2 separate regions of the Homo sapiens genome follow, and region 1 is linked to region 2. A link means that fine-mapping ties the variant in region 2 to the expression of a gene that starts in the linked region. Tissue or cell type: whole blood. Region 2 holds a variant in brackets; the other region holds the start of a gene. All regions are shown on one strand. Distances are between the middles of the regions.

The links. PIP is the estimated chance that this variant, and not a neighbour inherited with it, causes the effect.
Region 1: TMEM120A starts here. The variant in region 2 is fine-mapped to the expression of TMEM120A in whole blood (TOPMed, PIP 0.98).

Annotation. Positions count from the first base shown.
Region 1 is chr7:75,992,124-75,996,975 of GRCh38, reverse strand. TMEM120A (transmembrane protein 120A) reads left to right here and starts at 2,381. Exons shown (of 12, transcript NM_031925.3): 1 at 2,381-2,486; 2 at 4,419-4,537; 3 at 4,716-4,832. The coding sequence starts at 2,406. It overlaps STYXL1 (serine/threonine/tyrosine interacting like 1), which reads left to right. Exons shown (of 9, transcript NM_001317785.2): 9 at 377-634. The coding sequence ends at 508. RefSeq lists silencers at 2,140-2,589, 2,600-2,659 and an enhancer at 4,841-4,852.
Region 2 is chr7:76,212,607-76,217,458 of GRCh38, reverse strand. All of the region lies in intron 1 of SRRM3 (serine/arginine repetitive matrix 3), which reads right to left. Among named protein-coding and RNA genes, the nearest start is that of SRRM3, 13 kb to the right of the region's middle. The variant C/T (reference allele first, on the strand shown) is at 2,339.

The DNA.
Region 1 (4,852 bases), 220 kb after region 2:
CAGTTCTCTTCCTCTTTCCATTAATTTGTCCAGTCACAATGCAAACCTTTGTTGAGACTGCACTAGGCTTGGCATAGTGTTTGCCATCCACAGGTGGTTTCATGTATATTGTCTTAATCTTCCCAGAAGCTGTTTGAAATAGGAATTATTTCTGTCACCAGATTTAGAAGCAGAGGGGCTTGCCCAAGGCAGAGTCAGCTCCCATGACTCCCAGCACTGATGCATTCATGCCAGGCTGCCCTGTTTCTGCATCCAGCCCTTAAGCCGTGTTGCTGGCACTGTGCAAGTGCCTCCTGTCTCTGAAAGCTGCCTCTGATCCAAGTGGAAAGGGCCCAGGACCAATCGTGAAGTTCACTTTCTCTCTTTGTATTCATAGAGGTCCTGGGCCTATGTCAAGAAGTGCAAAAACAACATGTGTCCAAATCGGGGATTGGTGAGCCAGCTGCTGGAATGGGAGAAGACTATCCTTGGAGATTCCATCACAAACATCATGGATCCGCTCTACTGATCTTCTCCGAGGCCCACCGAAGGGTACTGAAGAGCCTCACCTGGGGGCATTTTGTGGGTGGAGGGCCAGAGTGTGTATACCCAGGCTTGTCTGGAAGGAGAAGGCCTTTGCTGCCTGAAAGTCTCATGTTAGCCTCCTGTACTGATTCTTCCCAAGTGCCTGTTCACGCCACCTAGCTGATGCGCCCTGCTCAGGTTCACCAAGAACCCGCATCCCTGAGGTGTCGCGGGCCATCCCAACTGCACCCCTGAGGCTGCCTCTGGAAGAGCATCTGGCTGCTAGAGCAGCTGCCCTGCATCCCCCTGGTGACTTAGACCCTTTGGAGGCTGCCTGGGGGTACCCAGAGGTTGCCTGTGTTGGTTCACAGAGGATGTCACAATAGCCACCAATAGGCAGTCCCCTAGTCCCAGAGATACCAAGCCCAGCCTTGTCTAGCCCCCAGGCTCCTAGAATGGGATCACACCCTTGCCTCATCCCCAGCGCTTCCTGCCATCCACCCCTTGAAACAGATTTTCTTTCCCTGCTCCCCACTCATTTCTGCCTGGCTGTGTTCACCAAGGAGAGATTCTCACCCCCTCCCCCATCTCCCTATCCACGTTTCTAGAAATTCCTAAGGTCTTAAAAGTTTTCCTTTTTTTTACCCCCTTTCCTTTTTTTTGGAGGCACGGTCTTGCTGTGTCTCTCAGGCTGGAGTGCAGTGGCGCAATCATGGCTCACTGCAGCCTCAACTTCCCTGGGCTCAAGCGATCCTCCCACCTCAACCTCCTGAGTGAGTAGCTGGGAATGCAGGCATGCACCATCACACCTGGCTAATTTATTTTTATTTTTGTAGAAACAGGGTCTTGCTCTGTTGCCTAGGCTGGTCTCGAACTTCTGGGCTCAAGTGATCCTCCAGCCTCGGCCTCCCCAAAATGCTGGGATTACAGGTGTGGGCCACGGCACCCAGTTGGAAGTTGTTTTCCAAATGCACTTCTCCAAAGCTGGCAGCACCCACAGAACAAACTGGGCATCAGGAGACGGCACAGACTAGGGGACTGGTAGGGGATTAGGATGTCCATCCATGCAGGACCTTCCCCAAGTCCATTCGGCAACCATTCCCTGCCACCGCGTGGGTGGGGCTGGGAACAGAGAGATGAATGCCGTCCCACCACTTAGCGCGCTCTGTGGAGGGATGGGGGTGGGAGGGGGTGGGGGATTCCCCTCAACAGAAGGGCAGGCCTTCAAGGAGGAGTGGGGTTTTGCCAGAGGGGGAACGGCTTTACACACAGCCCTGGCTTTCCTCAGGGTGTGAGTTGGGACAGAGCCCGGGATGGCTGCAGAGCTCCGATTAGGGACCTCCTGGTAGGCAGGACACAGCCGCTGGAAAGTTTTAAGCATGAACATGATGGGGAATCAGCCTTGTGTTTTGGGAAGGGCAGTCCGGTGGCCGCGAGAAGGGACAGTGGAGGTGAGGCAGGGAGAAAGGAGGCCGCTGTAAAAATCCAAGCGAGAGAAGCAGCTCTAACTCCCTTCCCCAAAGAGGCTCAGCTTCCCAAGGACGAAAATGTTGCAAGCAGGTGTCACCTCCCTGCACCTTGGTTTGCTCTCAGCATGACGGGCCAGAGCCCTGCTGGCTGCACCACGCGGCTGGCACAGTCAGTGCAGTCCAGGCCCGGGGGCTGCAGCCGTCCCAGTCCCGGTCCAGGCCGCGAGTCCCGGGGCTAGCAACCGCCCTTGCATACGGCCCCGCCCATACCCCGCCCCTGTCCCGGATTGGCTGGGGTGGGGGGCGTGGCCTTTCCCCATTGGTGCCCGTGGCGGCGCGAGCCCGGAAGCGGACGGGGGCGGTGGCGGAGGAGCCTCGGGTGGGCCGGGGTTGCTGCGCCGTCCTCCACTACTGGCTACTGGCGCTGCAGCCATGCAGCCCCCGCCCCCGGGCCCGCTGGGCGACTGCCTGCGGGACTGGGAGGATCTACAGCAGGACTTCCAGAACATCCAGGTTAGCGCCGCTGCGGACGCCGGGTCGCCCCCGAGCCGCGTCTCGCTGGCTCAGGGTCAAGGGTCGGGCAGCCCTGGGTCAGGCAGTGGGGAGCTAAGGGTCAGGGGTCGGGGCCCTGGCGTCACTGCCAAGGGGGGCGAGGCCCCTGGTCCTGGTGTCCACTGCCACCACCTCCAGTGTCCGGGAACCCCGGCGGGACCCCATCGCGCTGGGCGACCTCGGCTTCCAATGAGGGCCTTGGAAAGGGGCCCAGACCCCGACCCCGTCCCTTCCCAGAAGAGAGCGGCCGCCTGAGTCACACACGGGCGGGCCCAGCCTTGGGTCAGCCACTCAGCAAACGCGCAGCGGGCAGCGCCCGAGAGGCAGCCCAGGTCGGGGGAGCAGCGTTTAGGGGGGTGTCCTCGGCCTGGATGGGGGACGCCCCAGGCAGAGGGATACCGCGCGCCGCCGAGGCCTTTGGAAGGAAAGAGGGGACTTGACAGGCCCATGTGGCTGCATCAAGGAGAACCAGGGGAGGGGTGGGACGGGTGGGAGGGGTGGGCGGGGCTAGGCCCTGCAGGGACGCTCTGGCCTGGCAGAGATCAGAGTCCCTCCGAGGCCAGTGGAAAGCTACGGGAGGAATTGTCTGGACTGAGCTCCCCAGGGCCACCGTGGCTGTTCTGTCCAGAGGCCAGGGAGGAGGAGGCTGTTGGCCTCATCCAGGCAGGGAAGAGGGCGGTGGCTGTGGGTGGGCAGAAGTGGCACGTGCTGGGGTCCGAGGGGGCGTGGTGACCCCTCCTGGGCATGAGAAACAAGATCCAGACAGAGTAGAGCCCTGGCCAGCTGATGGCTTGGTTAGCCCTTGGCCTCTCCTGGACTGGTTCCAACTGCTTCCTGTGGGCATTGAAACCCAGCTGCCCCTGGCCCTGCCAAGGCCCCTGCCATTGGTGCTTCTCCCCAGAGACTGAGCAGACCCAGTCTCCCCGCCTGGCCGCCGCTGTCCTGGCCACAGCCCCTGCTTGGCTCTCCTCACACTGCCCCTTGCCCCATCTCTAGGCTGCGCCTTCTTGAGACTCACCTACCAGGGCAAAGTGCTTGGGGAATCCTTGGGCCAAAGGTGCTAGGGGAAGGGAGTGGGGCTGGCCTTAGAGCAGGAGGCTCTAGGGTTGAAACCTGATGACCTTTAACCTGGGAAGAAGATGTCAGGGATTCCTGAGAACCTGAGCTCCTCCTGTACTGGAAGGCTAGATAGGCAGGAGGAGCTGAGAGGATAGAGGGGTGGCTCTGGGCTGCCTGCTTGGTCCAGGAGGTGGCCCTGGGGGCCTAAGCTCCAGACTCAAGGTAGGAGAAAGAGTCTGTCCTTGTAGGGTGGGGACAACTAGCAGATGGGCTGAGACTAAGAAAACCTTGGCTGGGTGCGGTGGCTTATGCCTGTAATCCCAGCACTTTGGGAGGCCGAGGCAGGCAGATCACCTGAGGTCAGGAGTTCAAGACCAGCCTGGCCAACATGGTGAAACCCTGTCTCTACAAAAATACAAAAATTAGCCAGGCATGATGGCAGGTGCCTGTAATCCTAGCTACTTGGGAGGCTGAGGCAGAAGAATGGTTTGAACCCGGGAGGCGGAGGTTGGAGTGAGCTGAGATCCTGCCATTGCACTTCAGCCTGGGCAACAGAACAAGACTGTCTCAAAACAAAAACAAAAACAAAAACACCTAGTCTGTTTTTGGAGGAGGGGTGCTGTGGGGGTCTCTGGGCTCACAGGAGGACACCCAGGTCCTTGCCTGCCTTGGGGAGACAGCCACCTCATCCCTGGGCAGGCACAGTTCTACCTCCTTTCCCGCTGAGCGAAACCCTCCCAGCAGCCCTGGGGGAGCCTGAGCGCCACGTCCTGCCTGCAGGCTCTGGCTCAGTAGCTCCCCAACTGGCCTGAGCCTCTCCCCTCCGGCCCCCAGGAGACCCATCGGCTCTACCGCCTGAAGCTGGAGGAGCTGACCAAACTTCAGAACAATTGCACCAGCTCCATCACGCGGCAGAAGAAGCGGCTCCAGGAGCTGGCCCTCGCCCTGAAGAAGTTAGGATCCCCTACCCCACCCGCCATGGGCAGAGTGTGGGGTGGGAGGGCTGGCGCTGTGAGACCCTGGGCACCGCCCCTCCCCTCTCTGGGCCCTGTTTGCCCTTCTGCCCCTGTGGGAGTCAGGGAGGACACTTGGGAGTCCTCTTGCCCTGACTGTTTCTGGCCTTACCCGCAGATGCAAACCCTCCCTCCCAGCAGAGGCCGAGGGGGCCGCACAGGAGCTGGAGAACCAGATGAAAGAGCGCCAAGGCCTCTTCTTTGACATGGAGGCCTATTTGCCTAAGAAGAATGGGTGAGGGCCCCCACCGCCAC
Region 2 (4,852 bases):
ACAAAACTTAGCCGGGTGTGGTGGCAGACGCCTGTAATTCCAGCTACTCGGGAAGTTGAGGCAGGAGAATCGCTTGAACTTGGGGGAAGGAGGTTGCAGTGGGCAGAGATTACACCATTGCACTCCAGCCTGGGGGACAAGAGCAAAACTTCATCTCAAAAAACAAAACAAAACAAAAGCTGCATTTGCTTTTGAGCCGTGCTCTTTCTGTGTGTGTGTCTTTCTATAATCCTCGCCTTCCCTTCAAAACCTAACAGGGGGAGCTGGGCTCTGAGTCCCTGGAAGTGCAAGACTAACAAGAATCAAAATTGGATGGTGATGTGTACCCCTACCCTACCCCTACCCAGGCCAGAGCTATCAGCAGGAAGGGTGTGTGCTGGACAGACAGTCCGGCCCCTTCCACCTGCTGAGGAGGGTGACAGGAGAAGCCACAGGCAGCTGCCTCCACTGCCCATACAATCTCATTATGGAACATTCCCTCTATTGACTCAGCTCCAATCAAGCTGGCTGCCTGGGGGGCATCCCCTCAGGTTTCTGCTGGGCCGGCTGAGATCAAAGAGAGAGTCGGGCTGGGGGCTGGAGCATCACTGACTTTCCCATCGATCCAGATGCGCCTCTCGTTGCTAGGCAACAGCCTCCAGTCTCTCCCGGTCTTTCCTCCCCCGAGGGGCTGCAGAATTGGACAGTAAAAGGGGAGAGAGGGAGAGACCCCACATTCACTCTCCATGTCATCCCCTCCCAAGCTAGAAACCTCTGTCACCAACCTGGGAACCTCTCCTCCCCAGAAAGCAATTCCCCTGTCCATGTTGAGAGCCTGACCCTCCCACCAAAATGAACCTCTTCTCTCTCCTCACATTTGTATGCACCTCCAGTGTACTGGAAATCCATTCCTCCTCTGCTCCATGTAAGCATTCTCTCAGGAAGACAGGCCAGGGACTCGCCATTGAAGAAATCAAGGCTCAGAGAAGGAAGGGACCCTCAAGGACTCAGTGGAAAAGTCAAGATAAGACTGCAGGCTCCCTGTCCAGGCTCAGTGGCTCATGCATGTAATCCCAGCACTTTGTGAAGCCAAGGTGGGAAGACTGCTTGAACCCAGTTCAAGACCAGCCTGGGGGCAGGCACGGTGGCTCACGCCTGTAATCCCAGCACTTTGGGAGGCCGAGGTGGGAAGACTGCTTGCACCCAGGAGTTCAAGACCAGCATGGGGGCAGGCATGGTGGCTCATGCCTGTAATCCCAACACTTTGGGAGGTCGAGGCTGGGGGATCACCTGAGGTCAGAAGTTCACGACCAGCCTGGCCAACATGGTGAATCCCCATCTCTACTAAAATGACAAAAAATTAGCCAGATGTGGGCCGGGCGCGGTGGCTCACGCCTGTAATCCCAGCACTTTGGGAGGCCAAGGTGGGCAGATCACGAGGTCAGGAGATCGAGACCATCCTGACTAACACGGTGAAACCCCGTCTCTACTAAAAATACAAAAAAAAAAAAAAAATTAGCTGGGCGTGGTGGTGGGCACCTGTAGTCCCAGCTACTGGGGAGGCTGAGGCAGGAGACTGGCATGAACCCGGGAGGCGGAGCTTGCAGTGAGCCAAGATCGCACCACTGCACTCCAGCCTGGGCGACAGAGTGAGACTCTGTCTCAAAAAAAAAAAAAAAAAAAAAATTAGCCAGGTGTGGTGGCACATGCCTGTTGTTCCAGCCACTCAGGAGGCTGAGACAGGAGAACATTTGAACCTGGGAGGCAGAGGTTGCAGTGAGCTGAGATCATGCCATTGCACTCCAGCCTGGGCGACAAGAGTGAAACTCTGTCTCAAAAAAAAAAAAAAAAAAACCAGACTGGGCAACATAGCAAGACCCTGACTCTACACAAAATAATAATAATAAAAAAATTAGCCAGTGTAGTAGTGCACGCCTGTAGTCCCAGCTACTCGGGAGGCTGAGGTGGGAGGATCATTTGGGCCTAGAAGGTTGAGGCTGTAGTAAGCTATGATTACACTACTGCACTCCATTCTGGGCAACAGAGCCAGACCCTGTCTAAAAAAAAAAAAAAAAAAAAAAAAAACTGCGGGCTCCTAACTCCCAGCCCAGTATTGGACTAAATATGGGAGCCATTTAATCTTCAGAGAATGTCTCTAAAGACAAATGCACACTCCCATTTTTCAGTGGGTTGGCTTTTTTTTTCTCTCTTCCCAAAACGTAGGATGCATTTCATAGTAGTTTTTTTTGTTGTTGTTTCAAGTGCTATAATTTAAAACTGTTAGTTGTGCTTTAAAACAGGCATAAAAATGTACTGTGGGTTTTGGGGGCTGTAATTGACTAAATAATGCAAATCTGAT[C/T]ATTTTATCACAGTTTAATATTTTGCATATTTTATCTACCCTATACTGCTCATCTTTCCTGTTTTTTTTTTTTTTTTTGAGTGAATATATGCACGTCATCCTAGCAGTTGTTATGTGGTGACCTACTTATTTCATGACTTATTTAGAATTTTAAGATCTCTCTCCCTCTGAGGTCTTTACAGCCCTTGGGGATGGAGGAAGGAAAGTCTCCCAGCTGGGCACAGTGGCTCATGTCTGTAATCCCAGAACTTTGAGAGGCTGAGGTAAGAGGATCACTTAAGATCAAGAGTTCTAGACCAGCCTGGGCAACATAACAAGACCCCATCTCTATTTTTTTTTTCTTTTTACAAAAAGGAAAGTTTCTCAGTCTTCCCACTGGTCCCTGCCAAACCTTTCCTTAAACAACTAAGGGAGAGGAAGAGTTGATGTGTTTCCCAAGGTGTGAGGGGCCAGAACTCAGAAGTTGGGGCTCCCTGAGAGGTGCCAGGAGGTGCACAGTCCCTGAGCAGCGGTCCTGGTGGCCTTGGAACTGCCACTGCCTGCCACCTGCACACTCCCAGCTGTTAGCATGGTGACAGCTCCTCCCCGACTCCCCTGCCCGGCACCAGTCACACACTTCAACTCTGAGGAGCACAGCTTTTCAAGGTCCTTGACAAATGGTAACCAATTAATGTCAATTAATCTGATTAGCCTAAATAGTTAATTAAGCAGCTAATTTACAACATCATTGACAACAACCCACGGCTCCTGAGGGATGGTGGGTGGGAGGTAGGAATGGCAGGGGTGCTGAAGGGAGGTCTTCCTTGCCCTGGGAACAGGTGAGCCCCTTAATGTCGGATCGGGAGTGGGAGCTCCTGGTGCAGCAGTGGCCTCTCCAAGTCTCCACTCTGCTCTGCCATCATCCGAGAATCTCCATCAGGGTACCCAGCCCCAGGCCAGGCTCAAAGGGGCTGATTTCTGTGGGACAGGGTGAACCACAGCATGGTGGAGGAGGGAAAAGGCCTCCTGTCTGGGAAACTATTCCACCCTAAAATCCCAGAGAGGGTTGGGCGCAGTGGTTCACGCCTGTAATCCCAACACTTTGGGAGGCTGAGGTGGAAGGATCACTTAGTCCAGGAGTTCAAGACCAGCCTGGGCTACATGGTGAGACCCCCCCATCTCTACTAAAAATTAAGAAAAAAAAATTAGCCAGGCATGGTGACATGCACCTGTAGTCCCAGCTACTTGGGAGGCTGAGGCAGGAGGATCGCTTAAGCCTGGGAGTTCGAGGCTGCAGTGAGCTATGATTGTGCCACTGCATTCCAGCTTGGGTGACAGAGCAAAATCCTGTTAAAAAACAAACAAACAAACAAAAAAACCAAAAACCCAGAGAGGAGCCTCTGCCACCACTTCCCATCCACACCAAGCACCTTAGAGCTCATAACCCCTTTCAAGTCCCCAAGCTACAGAGAAACCCTGAGAGAGAATTCCCATCCTTCAGCCCATCCTACAGATGAGGAAACCGAGTACCTCCTAGATGCCAGGCCCCATGCTTGCACTGACAACCTGCAACAATGAATCCCACGAGGTCCCTGCCCTTAAAGAACAGCCACCCTGGGCCTCACAGTACCTTGGTGCAACCTCTGTGGGTCAACCACTTCTTAGCTGGGCGATGTTATTTACCTCTCCGTGCCTCCATTTCCCCAACTAGGACCGACCTACATCATTGGATGTTGTGAGGACTAAATAAGTTAATACACGCAGCAGTGCCGGCACACAGAAAATACCAAATGAGTTGGAAAGGTAAACCACCAGTGTGAATGGGGTGTAAAGCCGGGCACGGTGGCTCACGCCTGTAATCCTAGCACTGTGGGAGGCTGAGGCGGGTGGATTGCCTGAGGTCAGGAGTTCGAGACCAGCCTGGCCAACATAGTGAAACCCCGTTTCTACTAAAAATTCAAAAAATTAGCTGGGCGTGGTGGCAGTCCCCTGTAATCCCAGCTACTAGGGAGGCTGAGGCAGGAGAATTGCTTGAACCTGAGAGGTGGAGGTTGTAGTGAGCTGAGATCACGCCATTGCACTCCAGCCTGGGCGACAGAGTGAGACTCCGTCTCAAAAAAAAAAAAAAAAAAAAAAAGGAATGGGGTGTAAAGTGGGCCAGGGAAGAAGCAGCACCGGGCCCTCGAGGGCACCCAGATTGGAACAGGACATCACGCAGAAGATGTCTGAGCAGAGCCTGAAGCTCAGGGAGGTAGAGGAAGAGGGAGGAAGGGCATTCCAGGCGAAGGGAACCACATGTGCAAAGTGATGAGGCACCGGTTCTCAACTCTAGTGTGTACGGTCCACCTTGGAACTTTAAAAAATGCAGACCTTGGCCAGGCGCAGTGGCTCACGCCTGTAATCCCTGCACTTTGGGAGGCCAAGGTGGGAGGATCACTTGAGGCCAGGAGTTTGAGAACAACCTGGCCAACATGGCAAAACCCTGTCTCTACTAAAAACACAAAAATTAGCCGGGCATGGTGGCGGGTGCCTGTA